2 separate regions of the Homo sapiens genome follow, and region 1 is linked to region 2. The links come from fine-mapping of genetic effects on gene expression. A gene starts in region 2. The other region holds a variant in brackets. All regions are shown on one strand. Distances are between the middles of the regions.

What was found. PIP is the estimated chance that this variant, and not a neighbour inherited with it, causes the effect.
Region 1: its variant is the best candidate, but not a certain one, in a credible set for the expression of CST7 in skeletal muscle (GTEx, PIP 0.79).

Annotation. Positions count from the first base shown.
Region 1 is chr20:24,908,827-24,913,209 of GRCh38, forward strand. No RefSeq gene overlaps it. Among named protein-coding and RNA genes, the nearest start is that of LINC02967, 7.5 kb to the right of the region's middle. The variant C/T (reference allele first, on the strand shown) is at 2,433.
Region 2 is chr20:24,946,965-24,951,347 of GRCh38, forward strand. It overlaps CST7 (cystatin F), which reads left to right and starts at 2,305. Exons shown (of 4, transcript NM_003650.4): 1 at 2,305-2,611. The coding sequence starts at 2,542. RefSeq lists an enhancer at 1,971-2,020.

The sequences.
Region 1 (4,383 bases), 38 kb before region 2:
GTCTGCTCATGCCAGAAGCTACTGCCATGCCCTTGGACTTCCCAGCCTCCAAAACCATTAGCTAAATAAATTTCTTTTTTTATACAAATTACCCAGTCTCTGGTGTCCAGTTATAGCTACAGAAAACAGACTAAGACACCAGCCTCAAAGATCAACATTGGATTTATTTGGATTTGGTGTCACAGGGAATTCAAGGCAGGCTGAGGCACCTCCACCCAACAGAACTCAACCCCTCAGCCATGAAAGACCTCAGTCTTGTGCCTCAGGGCAGTGACTACCTGCCAGGGACCTCCTGGCTCCAGGGTGCTGGAGTTTATGACCTGGGTTTGGGGAATGATGTGTACAAATGTGTATTTCAAATGAAATTCTCATTATTTCTTCCCATTTTCTCCACGGCCTCCTCCTCAGACCGCCGTCCATGCTCTGACCTTTCCCCACATCACCTCACCTCTGACATCTTTGTCTTTATTGGGCTTCCCCAAAGCATACTGGGAGAAAGGGCTTGCTGTGGGCAGTTTACTGGGAGGACTACTCCAGGCAACAGGACAAGGGTGGGTGGCAAGGCCCGGAAAGGGGCTCACTATTGCCCACAGCTCAGCCACTGTCTCACCCATCCCGCTGGGAGTTCTGACACTGTGGAAGGTGCCCCTCGGGGGCCCCCCATAGGCAGGCAGTGTTCACCCACTGACCCTGTCCCTCCCTGGTTGGGGCTGGCTGCCTCCCAGCCCTCCTGGTTCTGTGGGCGGGGATGCAATGGGCAGGTAACCCCAGGAGGAGCCACACACTGCTGACATCCGATCCCCTTGACAGCCCCGAGACACAAAATGGAAAAGCTTAATTCCTGCTCCTTCCCCAGGGGGGCTGGCCAGCTGTGGACCCCAGCCCAGTAAACTTCAGGGGTCAGCAGTGATGTGCCCACATGGGGCCTGGGGTGAGCCCCTTGCCTCACTTCTGTAGGGCAACATCCCTGATCCGCACCCCACCACTTACAAGCGATGGTCTGGACCCGAGCATGAGTCTTCACAGGCCACGTCTATGCATGCCTTTGATGGCCAAGGTCTTGTTTCCAAGTTCAGCCCTTTTGTTTCTGATGCAGTAAGTTCTCACTGCAACCTTGGGTGCCCCCCCGTAGAAAAGTGACCATCATCATTTCTGATGGAGAGGAATTGCCCTCTAGCCAGAACACATAAAGCAACTTAATCCACCCCATGGCAGAGCATAGCACCAGCCTCCGTCCTGGCAGCCCAGGAGCATCGAAGTAAATTGGACACCAGGGGAGGCTGTGGGCTGCAGAAGGTAATAAAACATATTGACACCGGCAAGAGTTAATTAAAGATTTTATAAGAGTTCACTCAAGGAAGGCCTTTGAGTTCAAGCCAAACCCCAAAGCATGGAGAAATTAATGAAATCCACACTCATCCCTGCCTGGACATCTTCATCAGTAACAATAAGCACCTACAATTATCACAGGTTCACTCTTTCCTTAATTACTTAATTTGCAAGAGCAGAGGGTGAAATTCAGCATTCCCCAGCCTGCATAAAGAGGTAAAAGTACTGTCCAGGCACGCATTTGTCTTTTAATACAACATTTTAGCTTTGGACAGTGAGGAAATAAATTGGGCAAAGATGGGTTGCTGGGTGCCAGGGTTCATCCAGTTCTAATGGTGACACCACTCTCTGGGGACTTGGCCAGGACCCCAGCCCCAGGTGCTCAGCAGAGCTAGTGACACGTGGGAATGGAGAGAGTCACAGAGGGTACTCTATGGCCTGGCCAGCCCCTGAGAAGACCCCACCTGAGAGGGAGCCATGCACCAAATGCAAGCAACCTGCTCCAGGGAGGCACCTGCCCCTGGCTGGCAGCCAGAGTGCCTGAGGCCACCTGCAGAGGGGCTGGTATGGCTGCCTCGAGAGTAAGACAGGCATCCTCAGGCAGGACGCCCAGGACTCTGGCTACCACTCTAGACCTTCTGGCTTTTTTAGGGACAATTGATTCCCCAGGAAACTGTGTAAGCTTAGACCAGCAATTCTCCAGGTGGGGCCCTGGGTGGGCAGCACCAGCCTCCCCTGGGAGCTGGTGAGAGAAGCTGGAGAGTCCCCTGCATAAGAAGACCTGGGCATGGGCCCAGCCCTGTGCTCTCCATCTCTTGAACAGAGATCAAGCAGGCATTGGGACGGGGGGGTCCTGGGAATTTAACATTCACTGTAGTGCAGTTTACTTTGAAAAGTGCCAAAACAATAATCAAATTCATGCATGGATAAATGGATAGATACAGGATAAATGAAGAAAGAGTTCACTGTGAAATCTAGCGTGTGGGCATGTGAGTGTTCACTGAACAATTCATCCAGCTTTCCTGGAAAAGTTTAAAAACCTTTATAATAAAATGTTGCAGGAAGAAATCAAATGAAGAACTGAGTGAGATCCCTTCCAATCC[C/T]GGATCGCGGTTCTCCCACATCAGGTGGTAACTGACACCAACACCAACCACATGGAATAATCTGCAAATCTAAGCCAGCTGAACACACCTAGGGCAGAGCCCCCTGGAGACTAACCACGGTCACCAAGGATGGGTCAAGGGCGAGAGAAGAGGGGAAATCAACCCTAAACTCATCCACACAAAGGGGGGTTTGCTCAATAAAGACCAATGCAGAAATTGCAACCTGGAAATTTACACAAGAGCTACAGAAGTTAATGATAGAACAAAAGCCGGTGAAATACATTTATCCTCAGTTCCATGTCAGCACTGGGCAGATGAGTGACACCCGGGAGCTACAGATGCCTGCGGGGAAGATCCACGGGAGCTTAATTACACAGTCATAATGGGTCATCAGAGCAGAAGGGGATTGAGGCAGAAACGCCATCTCCATAAATTTACATCAGCACTCATGCTGGGAGAAACAGGAGGGAGGTCCTGGAGAGAAAGTGAGTGAGGCGGGGCAGGAGCCTCAGCTGGGTAGCCTGCCTGTGAACCCCGTGGAGACACCATGCACAAGGTTCTACCTGGGTGCATGGGAGCCTGTGAAATGCTCATTCCTGGGCTCCACACTCTGATCTACAGAATGAAACCAGAAATAAAATTCTGAGTCCCCTAACCGACTGCTGGACCCCTCCTCTCAGCCAAGGACATTCCAACATAAACCTGAACATCTAATTCTGGCCATGATGGGAAGGTGGGGGCCGGACAGACCTCATTATTTCCTCCTCTCATTTGAATCCAGGCACAGCTGACCAGCATTGACATCAAAATAGGGCAAGACCCTGTAGCAATGAGACACCAAATTCCAACCTAACTCTAGTATAGCCCCACATGACAGGCAGCAGGCCCTGAAAGAAACCGAAGTATTTTACACTAAAATATCTTTTTTTGACATGTTTTGAAATGTCCCTGCAAAGCTGTCTCTTGTGGGGAGAATCCACATTCTGTAGAGAATCCCCTTCCTTTCCAGGTCTCTTCCATGATCCAGGAGAGAATTAACTAAGGGCCTGGCACCCGTTCAGGTCTGATAAGAGCTCTGAAGCCGCTACCTGGAGGCTTCATCTGCGTGATAAATCCTGCTCTCCACAATCCCCCATCTTAACCCATACATTCCCTTCTATTGATTCCAGGTCTTTGGATAATAACTCTTTCAGCCAGTTGCCGATCCACCTATGACCTGGAAGCCTCCTCCTCTTTGAGTTGCCCTGCCTTTCTGGACTGAACCAATGTACACCTTCCATGTATTGATTGATGTCTTATGTCTCCCTAAAACTCAAAAACAAGCTGCAGCCCGATCACCCTGGGGATCTCCTGGGGCTGTGTCATGGGCCCTTGGTCCTTATATGTGGCACAGAATAAATTTATTCAAATATTTTATGGAGTTTTTCATGGAGAAGAATGAGGGGTCCTTGAGGAACATTGGCTGCGTGTTCCCAGGTTTGCTGGCTGTTCTGATGAGCAGCACTGGAAGAGCCAGAAAGCCCCAGGGACCCCACCCACACCCCAGTGCCTCTCTGGGCTCCAACCCGCTGACCCAGGGGCCACCGCCAGCACCATCTCTGCCTGCTCTTGCATGCGGGAGGCACAGTCCAGGGCTGCTGCCCTCCACCTTGAGCTTAGCAGCCACCTCCCCTCCTGTGGCCAGCATGAGGCTCCCAGGGAGCCTGAGCCCCAGTGTCCATGGCCACAGCTGCCTTAGCCCTCCCTGTTCAGATGGCTCATGACCCTGCCCGGCCCATAGCCTGCCCTCCCGCCATGTGCCCTGGCACAGAAACAGACAAAGACCATCCAAAGGAGCCTAGGGGCTCAAGGCATGCAGCAGTGGGAGGCAGCACCACCAGGCGGGACCTGCATGCAGGCAGGGGTGGGAAAGCCTCATAGAGGAAAGAGGGGGCTTCAGAGGTGCCCCAGT
Region 2 (4,383 bases):
AAAGAGGGAGTCAAATTGTCTCTGTTTGCAGATGACATGACTGTATATTTAGAAAACCCCATCATCTCAGCCCAAAATCTCCACAAGCTGATAAGCAACTTCAGCAAAGTCTCAGGATACAAAATCAATGTGCAAAAATCACAAACATTCCTATACACCAATAATAGACAAACAGAGAGTGAAATTATAAGTGAACTCCCATTCACAATTGCTACAAAGAGAATAAAATACCTAGGAATACAACTTACAAGGGATGTGAAGGACCTCTTCAAGGAGAACTACAAACCACTGTTCAAGGAAATAAGAGAGGATACAAATAAATGGAAAAACATTCCATGCTCATGGATAGGAAGAATCAATGTTGTGAAAATGGCCATACTGCCCAAAGTAATTTATAGATTCAGTGATATCCCCCATCAAGCTATCATTGACTTTCTTCACAGAATTGGAAAAAACTACTTTAAAGTTCATAGGGAACCAAAAAAGAGCCTGCATAGCCAAGACAATCCTAAGCAAAAAGAACAAAGCTGGAGGCATCATGCTATCTGACTTCAAACCATACTACAAGCCTACAGTAACCAAAACAGCATGGTACTGGTACCAAAACAGATATATAGACCAATGGAACAGAACAGAAGCCCAGAAATAACACCACACATCAACAACCACCTGATCTTTGACAAACCTGACTAAAACAACCAATGGGGAAAGGATTCCCTATTTAATAAATGGTGTTGGGAAAACTGGCTAGCCATTTGCAGAAAACTGAAACTGGACCCCTTCCTTACACCTTATACAAAAATTAACTCAACATGGATTAAGGACTTAAGACCTAAAACCATAAAAACCCTAGAAGAAAACCTAGGCAGTACCATTCAGGACATAGGCATGGGCAAAGACTTCATGACTAAAACACCAAAAGGAATAGCAACAAAAGCCAAAATTGATAAATGGGACCTAATTAAACTAATGAACTTCCACACAGCAAAAGAAACTGTCATCAGAGTGAACAGGCAACCTACAGAATGGGAGAAAATTTTTGCAATATATCCATTTGACAAAGAGCTAATGTCGAGAATCTACAAGGAACTTAAACAATTGACAAGAAAAAAACAACCCCATCAAAAATTGGGTGAAGGATATGAACAGACACTAAAAAGAAGACATTTATGCAGCCAAGAAACATATGAAAAAACGCTCATCATCACTGGTCATTAGAGAAATGCAAATCAAAACCACAATGAGGTACCATCTCATGCCAGTTAGAATGGTGATCGTTAAAAAGTCAGGAAGCAACAGATGCTGGAGAGGATGTGGAGAAATAGGAACGCTTTTACACTGTTGGTGGGAGTGTAAATTAGTTCAACCATTGTGGAAGACAGTGTGGTGATTCCTCAAGGATCTAGAACCAGAAATACCATTTGACCCAGCAATTTCATTACTGGGTATATACTCAAAAATCATTCTACTATAAAGACACATGCACACGTATGTTTACTGCAGCACTAGTCACAATAGCAAAGACTTGGAACCAACCCAAATGCCCATCAATGGTAGACTGGATAAAGAAAATGTGGCACATATACACCATGGAATACTATGCAGCCATAAAAAAGATGAGTTCATGTCCTTTGCAGGGACATGGATGAAGCTGGAAACCATCATTCTCAGCAAACTAACACAAGAACAGAAAACCAAACACCGCATGTTCTCATTCATAGGTGGGAGTTGAACAATGAGAACACATGGACACAGGGAGGGGAACATCACACACCAAGGACTATCTGGGGATCCGGGGCCAGGGGAGGGATAGCATTTGGAGAAATACCTAATGTAGATGATGGGTTGATGGGTGCAGCAAACCACCATGGCACGTGTATACCTATGTAACAAACCTGCATGTTCTGCACATGTACCCCAGAACTTAAGTAATTAAAAGAAAAAGGAAAATCAAGTGATTTTGCTTTTGAAAATTCCTGCTAATGTTTTTCATGCAACATCTCTTTCGTGTGTGGCTCAGGGGTAGAACATTGCATCAGGATTTGCTCATGGGTCTCATGTCTCTTCCTCCTCCCCCAGCAAATGACGGCTGCTCGGAAACTTTTATAAAGGAAGCGGTTGCTTTGTGGCTGATAGATCTGAAGGTGAAGAGCTTCTGGCCAAAATGATTCAGCAGCAAAACACTCCCCTCCCCAGCACCACGCAGGCAGCCCCCTAGCCCCGCCCCTGCCCCATCCCACAGTGGTTTGCAGGGTGGGGTTCCATGCTGTGGCCCTGGCACCTGCCCCTGGGCTGGGACAGCCCACTGTTCCATGCTGCCCAAGAAGGCTCAGCACAGGCACAAACCATTGCCCGGCACTGGCCCGTGCTGCCTGAGAAGGATTGGCACGGGCACAGACCACTGCCCCCACCTGCCCTGCGCCATCTACCCAAGAAGGCTCGGCACGGGCACCAACCACTGCCTCCAACTGCCCCATGCTGCCTGAGAAGGCACTGCACGGCCACCCCCAACTGCCCCGCACTGTCCCTACCCGGGCAGCCATGCGAGCGGCTGGAACTCTGCTGGCCTTCTGCTGCCTGGTCTTGAGCACCACTGGGGGCCCTTCCCCAGGTAAGTGGCGTTCTCCCCTGTCCGCTCCCCGGGGGTCTCTCCCTGAGATTGGCCACTGGTGCCTTGGGTCTTCCCCAGGGCACTTTCCTAGCTTGGAGCCCCCACAGGACCATGCGGTGGTGAGAGGTGCTGGGAGTGGTGAGAGGGGCAAGGGGCTCCATCTGGCTGCAGCTACCTTTGGGGGTAGCAGGCTACAGGGATGAAGGGTTTGGGGGCTGCCCCAGAAGGCTAGGGGCAAGGGAAGCATCTTCTATTCTCTGGCTCTTCACAGAGGTCTGAGAAAGGTCTAAGTAAGGCAGGTCTCCCGCAGCTCCTCTGCGGGACGGAGGCGACAGGGCAGCCACATGCCTGTGGTTAGCCGCTTCTATCTGATGGCTTGTCATTCCTTCCTGCTGGCTGTTGTCCTGTGACTTGGCTCCAGGGACCCTAACGATCAGACTCTTTCACCCTTCCTGAAATCCACTCCCTGAGGGTCAGCACTCAGGGGGAGGGGGGACAGGGAGGAAAGAGCCACTGCCTGTGCACTGGGAAACTGAGACACAGCCAGGCTAGGTGATTTGCCCAAGTCACACAGCCAGGGACAACCTGCTCTCCCCCAAAGGGAACTGGGCCATGGCCTCCCTGGCACAGGAATCAGACCAGGATACTGATGGGGACTTGGGAGGCCCCCACCTCATTTAACCAACCAGGAAGCTGGCACCAGAGGGCTGAGGTGACCCGCTCAAGTCATATGACCCCCACCCAGCAGACAGGGACAGAAGGGGGCTGGAGCCTGGCCAAAGGGGCCCAGGTGGGGGCTGTGCAGCAGGACCACTGACAAGAGGATGGCTCCAGAGCACCCAAGGGGTTCTTGGAGGGTTCTCACCTCCTCCTGGTGAGTCAGGATACTGAGGACTCAGTGATGCTGGGGGACACTGTGTCGAGCTCCCAGGCCTGGCCTAGGGCGGACGCTGCGACTGAGCAGCCAAGGGGACACGGCAGGCTGGAGGAGGGGCCGGGGGCAGCTTCTGCTCTCACTGATGGGAACATGCCACCGCCACCAGCTCTGGGTAGTGCTCAGCGAACATGGAGCTGACCCATGGCTGGCAGAAGGCTGGGGACAGCATACCCGGCCCTGCCTCCCAGCTTGGGAGCCTTCTTAGCTCACGCAAGGAGCCCTCCACCTGCTTCCCAGCCTCACAGGGGCCTCTCCTCCTGGCCCTGTCCTGATGCAGTGCTGCCTGCCTGCTGCCATTCTGTGCCCTGCCCCTTCGTGTCTCCAAGGTCCAAGGGGGAAGCAGGGAAGAGAGGCAAGTTCACTCCAGAGAAGTGGCTCGTTCTCACACCTCAGAAAAGGCTCTCCTGGAGGGGACATGGAGCCAGCTGTCCTAGCGTGTCCTGGGATCTAATTAAACCTACTGACTGCTGAGGGGTTTCAGAGCTCTGCTCATCTCACGGAGCAGGCTAGGGACTATAACAGGGTGGCGTGGGAGCCGATGTGCTGGGCAGCTGGCAACGTCATTTTCCTGGGTGGTGTTCCCGGCCCCTCGCTGGTATGTAATGCTGCACCAAGCCTTTCCCTCCATTCTCAGCAGACCTGCTGTCAGCCACCAAACCCCAGAGAGAAGCTCCAGAGCCCACGTTCACACACACAGAGCGGGCCCTCAGCCTCAGTCCTACCATCCATGAAATGGGAAGATAACTGCACCCCGTCTCCGGCCCTGGGGAGGCTGAACAGAGGTGGCTCGGGGAAGGCACAGGCATGGAGGCACATGGGGCATGGGGTGCTCTCC